2 linked regions of the Homo sapiens genome follow. The protein of the gene in region 1 purifies or fractionates together with the protein of each later gene. This does not show direct contact. Each region holds a gene or a part of one and is shown on either strand. Other genes may lie near its edges. The genes, in order: GBP2 and RNPEP.

Region 1 (3,806 bases):
GTGTGCATTGATATCCACCCTCTCTTTATCTCTGCTCATTTTCCCCATAGGGCAATGAGAGGTGCTTCTTTCTTACTATCTTTACAAACTAAGTAGCATTGGGCACTTAAAAGATCCTCTTGAAAAGCTGATATGTGCTCTTTGGGGTTTGGGGACACTAGTACTGGTGCCCAACTTATGCCTAAAAACATCTAAAAGTGATAGTCTGGGATGGAATGGTTTGTGGCAAAATAGGAAAGAAAAGAGAGTTGGGGGAATCCTGTTCCTACGGTGTATGGCTAAACTGGTGCGCATGAGTTTTTCTCATGGGTATAATCACTGGGGTGTTCTGGACTTGGGTCATATTGAAGGAAATCCTGCACAAGATGTCAACATGTCAAGAGGCATTGATCTCAACACCAAGAATATATTGAATGAGTGGATCTCTAGAAGAGAGAATTTGAGGAAAGGAATCAGAAGTGGACTACAATAGGGACGTGCTATTGGGAGGTCCTGGCAAGGGGGATCAGCAAAGAACCCAAATCATCCTTAAGGACTTAAGCCACCACCAGAAGGTGCCAACACCAGATCAGTTATGTATCATGTAAGGTTTCTTTTCCTTAATTCCCTGCACTCTAGTGTTAACAACTTGAAGGTATCATCAACATGAGCTAGTGTACCCAGTGGGAGGGAGAGCTGGAAATGAAAATAAAAAGTCGTACACCTTTCTCACTGTGTGCCTGTAAGGCTGAATCAGGCCTGGGCTGTGTGACTGAGTGGAATCTGAGGGGGAGCAAGATACAAGGGGAGGAACTTTAAATCAAAACTCAGACATTTAAAAATTTAGGTCAAATGTTATTTTTTTTTTTAGAAAAAGAGACTATTCATTTATCTGAGAGTGACTAATGAACAAACAGGAAAGAAATGTTCCGATTAAGTAAAAGGGGAATTGTAAGAAAGAATAAAGTTGCTTTTTGCTTTCACAGAACTAGATACAAAATACTAACTGTTTGAAAGGTAAGAGCAATAACTAAACTGAGGCATAAACAAGATAGATCTTAAATACAAATGAACTAATATGTTAAATTGTGTTCCCAGGGTTGGGGAATAGGGAGTACCTATTCTATAGTCCTATTAAGTCTTTCTTAAGTATCATTGTTAAAAACTAAGAATAACTTAAAGAATATTAACAAAGTGCATGACATGAAACAACAGTGGAAAGATTAAAACAACATTGAAAAATAATGACAAAAAAGATGAGAAGAGTGTTGTATCTGATGTACACAAAAATACTAACTCAAGTCTTAGGTTATTCCTACTATAAGATTTATCTCCATACATCTGCATGGAAAAACTGGTTGACTAAACATACAGGAAAATTTCCCACGTTATTAGTTTCTTCCTCCAAAAGTAGAAGACAAAAATACTCTAATTCTCAGACTTTCCCATGGGTAGGCATATGATTTAGATTCTTCCCTGCAGATTGACTTTTGTGAGGCTTAGCTGGAGATGTGAGCAGCTCAAAGATGCAACTTTTCATGGGGTAGGGGAGTATTTGTTTACTGAAAATGTGAAGGTGGTGGCATCCATTTACTCATAGCTGACACTGCAGAAGCTTCCAGCATTTCATCCAGAGATCATGGTGCTGGTTCATGGTAGCTGTGTTGTTTTCCCGTGAGATGCCTTTACAATGGTAGTATTATCCTCGGTGGAATAGCTGTAGAGTATGGCTCCCTCACAATTCTGGAGCATCGGTGTGCAACCTAATGGTATTAAAAAGTAAATTACTTTTTACTTAAATTGCTGAGCAGATTGTTATTTGCCATGAAGAACTCTGAATAATACACATCCTGAAACAATTGTAGTAGGATAATGTTTTGTATTAATGAATTATTCTTGATTTTTCAATCTGTCATTTTTTTTTTTTTAGTAAGTCATTTACCCTGAGTAGCTTTGAGGATATAATGTCATAGCAGAGGAGCAGAGAGAAAAATGCAGTCAAGTTTTAGGCTTTATAGGATTATAGTCCTGGTCCTCAGAAGAATGGAAAGTAATTTGAGTTTGAGTTAAAGCTTTCCTTTCTGTGATTGTAGAAGTTATTTTCTAAACTTCAGGAAAGAGAAAAGACTAAGGGAGACTAGAGAAGAGAGATCTAGGTGGCCTGGGAATGGGGCAGTAATTACCTAGAGGGTTTACATGGACAGAGAAGGTGGAGCCTCTACTCATAAATGCATTCTGCACAGAGGCAACCACTTTCTCTGCTAGTGCCCACAGATCATGCAGCCTCCACCCAAATGAGAACTGTGCACTGTCTGTACTTTAAAAGCCTAGTTAAGTGTCCCAGATCTCCTTTATTTGCAGCCAGCATGCCATACAAAGACCACTTGGCAGGAGTGATGCTCTACTGTGCCCCATGGTTTGTTTGGTCTCATCACATTTTCATCATATTCACAACACTTCAGCCCTATGCTACGACCATAGTTAAATCCCTGAATAAGAGTATAGGACTGAATATACAGTAAGGGTGGTGCATATGAGAGAAAAAAATCTACCCAGAACAGAAACTGCAAGATATCTCATTGGAAAATGCATCCTAGTTACACAATATCTCTCTTGAGTCCTTGTGTATGATTTCAAATATAGGATTTAGTTAAAGATCATATTAAAAGTTAGTACTATAAATAAGCATGAGTTGAATTGCTCTGTAGGTAAAACATTGACCTCATACTTAACCTTTACTTTGCAAACTTTATGGTTCAACAAAAATGCATGCATCATGATTTTGAGTTAAGTTTAATGGCAGTTGTTTGACACTCTGAAGTTGCTCATTCATGTTGTTTCTTGGGGAGAGGGAGCTGGACAGGCAAATTTTGCTCCTTGGACTTTTAGAGTATGTTACATATTGGCTCCAATGATTTGCTTCTCATCTGGATATCCCATATGTCTTTTTGAAGTCTCTTGCTCTCATTCTCGAATCCCTCCTTGAGAAGGCGTTCCTGTTCCTAAAAGGGAAAGTGGAGACTAAGCCTATCCAGCTTAACACATTTCCACCAGATTAGTTCCCCTTTTGGTACTTATATTGATCCTTCAAGAATTTTTGACTATCACTCTCTTCTGAGTCTCCTATACCTGCCAATAATTTTTCTATGATTTTTTTAGCTTCAAAAATGTTGTTGTTCTACAGTTTCTAAAATATTAGTGACCCAGCGTTTTATTCCTTGGTCCCTTCACCATTTGCACTCATGCAACACAGTCTTTCTGGAAAAACCATAACTTTCTCTTGTTCTTTTTGTTGTTGTTGTTCATTTCTGATCTATATAGAATGGACTCTTAAATATATATCTAGGAAGGTATGAAAGATAGATGATTTCCAATTGGTAGGTTACTATATAACTCAAGACTAGGGCAAGTGTTTGATCAGGGAATTTAGTACAGGTCTCCAAAATTCGGAGGTAACAGAAATAAATTGAGGAGATCAGGGCTTACAGTGGCCCATAGGCTATTTCTGGGCAAACGTAAATGTGGAAAAGAGCCCAGAGAACAAGAAAGTATTGGCACCATGGGCACTTAACCAGTGTGCTTAAGTGGGTAGATGGTTAGGGAATCTTTCTTTTTTTTTTTTTGAGATGGAATTTGACTCTTGTTGCCCAGGCTGGAGTGCAATGGCGCCATCTTGGCTCACTGCAACCCCCGCCTCCCAGGTTCAAGCGATTCTCCTGCCTCAGCCTCCTGCATAGCTGGGATTACAGGCATGCGTCACTATGCCCAGCTAATTTTGTATTTTTGATAGAGACGGGGTTTCTCCATGTTGGTCAGGCTGGTCTTGA
Region 2 (3,823 bases), about 110 Mb from region 1:
GAAAGAAGAAGCCCTTCGTGTACACCCAGGGCCAGGCTGTCCTAAACCGGGCCTTCTTCCCTTGCTTCGACACGCCTGCTGTTAAATACAAGTATTCAGCTCTTATTGAGGTAAGGAGACTAAGGTTAGGTGCACCTGCCCTTGGGATGAAGAAATGATTTCAGATCTATCAATCAGGTCACGTTTCAGTGGTAAATTATTATATCCATTCAGTGGTACTTCTGAAAAATTGCTTACTTTTAAATTCTTCCACCTACTGAAGTTGTATGTAGCCTTCCTCTAAATCCCATCAGTTGAGCACAGATTTAGTTTCTTGAAACCTTTGTGTTCTCCAAGATAGACTCCAGGCCATTATCATCACACACAGGTGGCCGGTCATGCTCTTATTCAAACTAATCAAAAGGAAACTCTCTCCAGGTAAAATCTCCTAAGCTTTCTCTGTTGTCAGGTCCCAGATGGCTTCACAGCTGTGATGAGTGCTAGCACCTGGGAGAAGAGAGGTCCAAATAAGTTCTTCTTCCAGATGTGTCAGCCCATCCCCTCCTATCTGATAGCTTTGGCCATCGGAGATCTGGTTTCGGCTGAAGTTGGACCCAGGTAGGAGACAAAGACCCCACAGGCAAGGTTGGATTGGCCTCAGAGGTGAGGAGGACTCTGACCAGTGGACCTGCTGGGGGGGTTCTTGGGCAGTCTTGGATCCTCTGTCTGAGTCCAGAGCCTTTCTGCAGCTCATGCAGCATGAGCACAGCTGGAGGAAGTGCTCTTTTTCTCCCTGCCTTTCTCACTCCCTCTCTCCAGTTCTAATCCTGCTGCCTGGAATGAGATCATCATCCCTGCTAGCAGTAGCGCTGTCCTGGGCTGCCTTACAGAGGGATGTTGGAATTTAGGCTGCAGTTTTGGGAAATGGATTTTTTTTTTTTTTTGAGATGGAGTCTTGCTGTGTTGCCCAGGCTGGACTGGAGTGCAATGGTGCGATCTTGGCTCACTGCAACCTCTGCCTCCTGGGTTCAAGCGATTCTCCTGCCCCAGCCTCCCAAGTAACTGGGACTGCAGGCATGCCCCACCACGCTCGGCTAATTTTTGTATTTTTCGTAGAGACGGGGTTTCACCATGTTGGCCAGGCTGCTCTTGAACTCCTGACCTCAGGTGATTCACCCGCCTTGGCCTCCCAAAGTGCTGGGATTACAGGCATGAGCCATCATGCCCGGCCTGGGAAATGGATCTTTATTAATATCTTTAAGTTCTAAATGCCCTTCTAGCAGCTATATCCACTTTCCTATCTTTGTACCAAATCTTCCCCATTTTCTTTTGCACGTAGTTCCTGGAAATAACAACTTTGGTATCATTTCCCTCGAAGAGGGAAGTGGACTCTCCTTCCTATCTGCAGCAGATGCATGAGTCTAAGCCTACGGTGAGAGCAATGCCTCCGTGAAGTTACATGGATCTTGTGAAGATAAAAAGGGATTTTGTAAGGTTTCCTGATAAAAGAGGTTTGACCAGGAGTATAGGTTTTTCCTGGCTCTCATATTACCTCCACCATAGCTTAGTCCCAATGTGGGAGCATCACAGGCTGGACGGTGAAGCCGTGACCTTTTCCTGGCACTGTTGCTGTTCTTTATCTCTGGCCCTGCTCCCAGTTCCTAGAGGCAGTGGTGTCCTTGACAACATTAGTTACGAGCCTCAGACTTCATAACTGGGCTCAGTGGCACTGCTGGTATCATGAGTCTTAGTTTCTGGTTATCAGTTGGAATAATAAATGGGATTCCATTGGCATCTGCTCCCAGCGCACACATTCAAAACAATACCAGTCTGGAAAGACAAAGTGCCCTCCTCTTACGAAGGGCTGTCTTCCTAATAGGCAGGGCGGGAAATAACCAAAAGGATGTCATCTTTGCAATAGACAAGCAAGTAGATAAGTAAAGGAACGTCGTTTCCAAGAATACCCTTACTAAGGTTCTACTTGTAAGAGTATGAACTATTAATGGGAAATGAGAGAACAATAGATTCTAAAGATACTGAGTGATAATGATTTCTTTTTATACTGCCTGTAATAAAATGACAACATGGTATATCGAACTAGGTGACAGAATCCACTTAACTGGTGGTAATGCCTTATTCCTTCCGTGATTAAATGGACAGTTCTTGCCTCCTGGGTCACATCGTAGGGTCTTGTGGGGGGTTATTTATTTATTATTTTTGAGATGGCGTCTTGCTCTGTTGCCCAGGCTGGAGTGCAGTGGCGCGATCTTGGCTCACCACAACCTCCGCCTCCTGGGTTCAAGTGATTCTCCTGCCTCAGCCTCCCAAGTAGCTGGGACTACAGGTGTGTGCCACCATTTCTGGCTAATTTTCATATTTTTAATAGAGACAGGGTTTCACTATGTTGGCCAGGCTAGTCTTGAACTCCTGACCTCGTGATCCATCCACCTCGGCCTCCCAAAGTGCTCGATTACAGGCATGAGCCACCACGCCGGGCCGTGGGGGTTTATTAAATCGGAGGGTCTTCTGGCAAGGTATGCCACCTATCCCAGTCCCTGTTACTGCAAGAGGAAAATCCTGGGCAGAGGGGAATTATGGGTATATCCCAGTAGGCCCTTTTATGTATAATCTCTTCTAATCCTTACACAGACTCCATGAGGATGATACTTTCTACATTTTAAAAATAAGCAAACCAAGGCTGTGGTGAGTGGCTTGTGCAGGACCACTAGTTGGCAAAACTGGAATTAAAATTCAGGTATTTCCATTGCAAATCCAGTGCTCTTTGCAATATACTACAGGTAGTGAGATTGCAGCTTGACTGAGAGCATCCTGATTTATTTTGACAGAAATGTGTGTCCTGGTGGAGGTATCTTGGATGACTGTCTTAAACCTTCTAGTTGTAACAAGCTGAAGTCCACTGGGCTGAAGGACTGTGGTAATTTTGACATCCAAGGTGGTGGTAGAACAATTCACAAAGTAATTCCTTGAAGATACTGACTGCCGTCCCATGATCTTTTTCTGTCTGGTTTCCTGTCACATCATCTTTGGCGACTTTTCTCTCCTAACACCCAGGGTTGAGGGTGGCTGCAGGGTTTCTTGTGCCTTTCTCCCTCCCTCCCTCCCTCCCTCTTTCTTTCTTTTCTTGCCTCGCTCTCTTGCCCAGGCTGGAATGCAGTGGCACAATAACAGCCCATTGAACCTCAAGCTACCAGGCTCAAGCAGTCCTCCCACTTCAGTCTCCAGAGTAGCTGGGACCACAGCTACTCTGTCACCATGCCCAGTTAATTTTATTTATTTTCTGCAGGAGCAAGGTCTTGCTATGTTGTCCAGGCTGATCTTGAACTCCTGGGCTCAAGAGATCCTCCCACCTCGGCCTCCCAAAGTGTTGGGATTGCAGGCATGAGCCACAACACCAACCTTCAGGGTTTCTTGACCTCTACTCAGGGAGCCTTCTCCACTCTGTCAGCCACCCATATTCACACCCATGCTCTGGAGTCTAGAGCCTAGACATCGTCATTGTCATGAACTGTACCATATCTGAACTTTTAAGGCCCTTGAGCCCCTTGTCCTCATTCATCCTGACTCTGCTAACCTTCCAGCTCTCTGACGGCCTCTCTCCCACTATATTCCACCATGTCTCCTCCTTGAGCTCATGGCAGCCTCCCTTCCGGCAAGCCACTCATTTCTCCTGGGCAGTCAAGACCCTCCTGACTGGGCTTCCCTCCCTGGCCCAAGTGTGTGGTTGGTTACCTCTTACCAACACCCCAAAGCCCCTTGCCCACTTCCCGCTGCTATAATGTCCCAGTCCCTTGTTATACAATTCCTTTTCTCTACTTCTATAAGT

What was found.
Region 2: the proteins of GBP2 (region 1) and RNPEP fractionate together in Homo sapiens (co-fractionation; one large-scale study listed by BioGRID). This does not show direct contact.

What each region holds. Positions count from the first base shown.
Region 1 is NC_000001.11:89,105,311-89,109,116, forward strand, and holds the end of GBP2 (guanylate-binding protein 2), read right to left. Parts: intron 2,982-3,806; coding exon 2,865-2,981; 3' UTR 822-2,864; downstream 1-821.
Region 2 is NC_000001.11:201,988,935-201,992,757, forward strand, and holds part of RNPEP (aminopeptidase B), read left to right. Parts: coding exon 1-110; intron 111-448; coding exon 449-597; intron 598-3,823. UniProt on the Homo sapiens protein: Exopeptidase which selectively removes arginine and/or lysine residues from the N-terminus of several peptide substrates including Arg(0)-Leu-enkephalin, Arg(0)-Met-enkephalin and Arg(-1)-Lys(0)-somatostatin-14.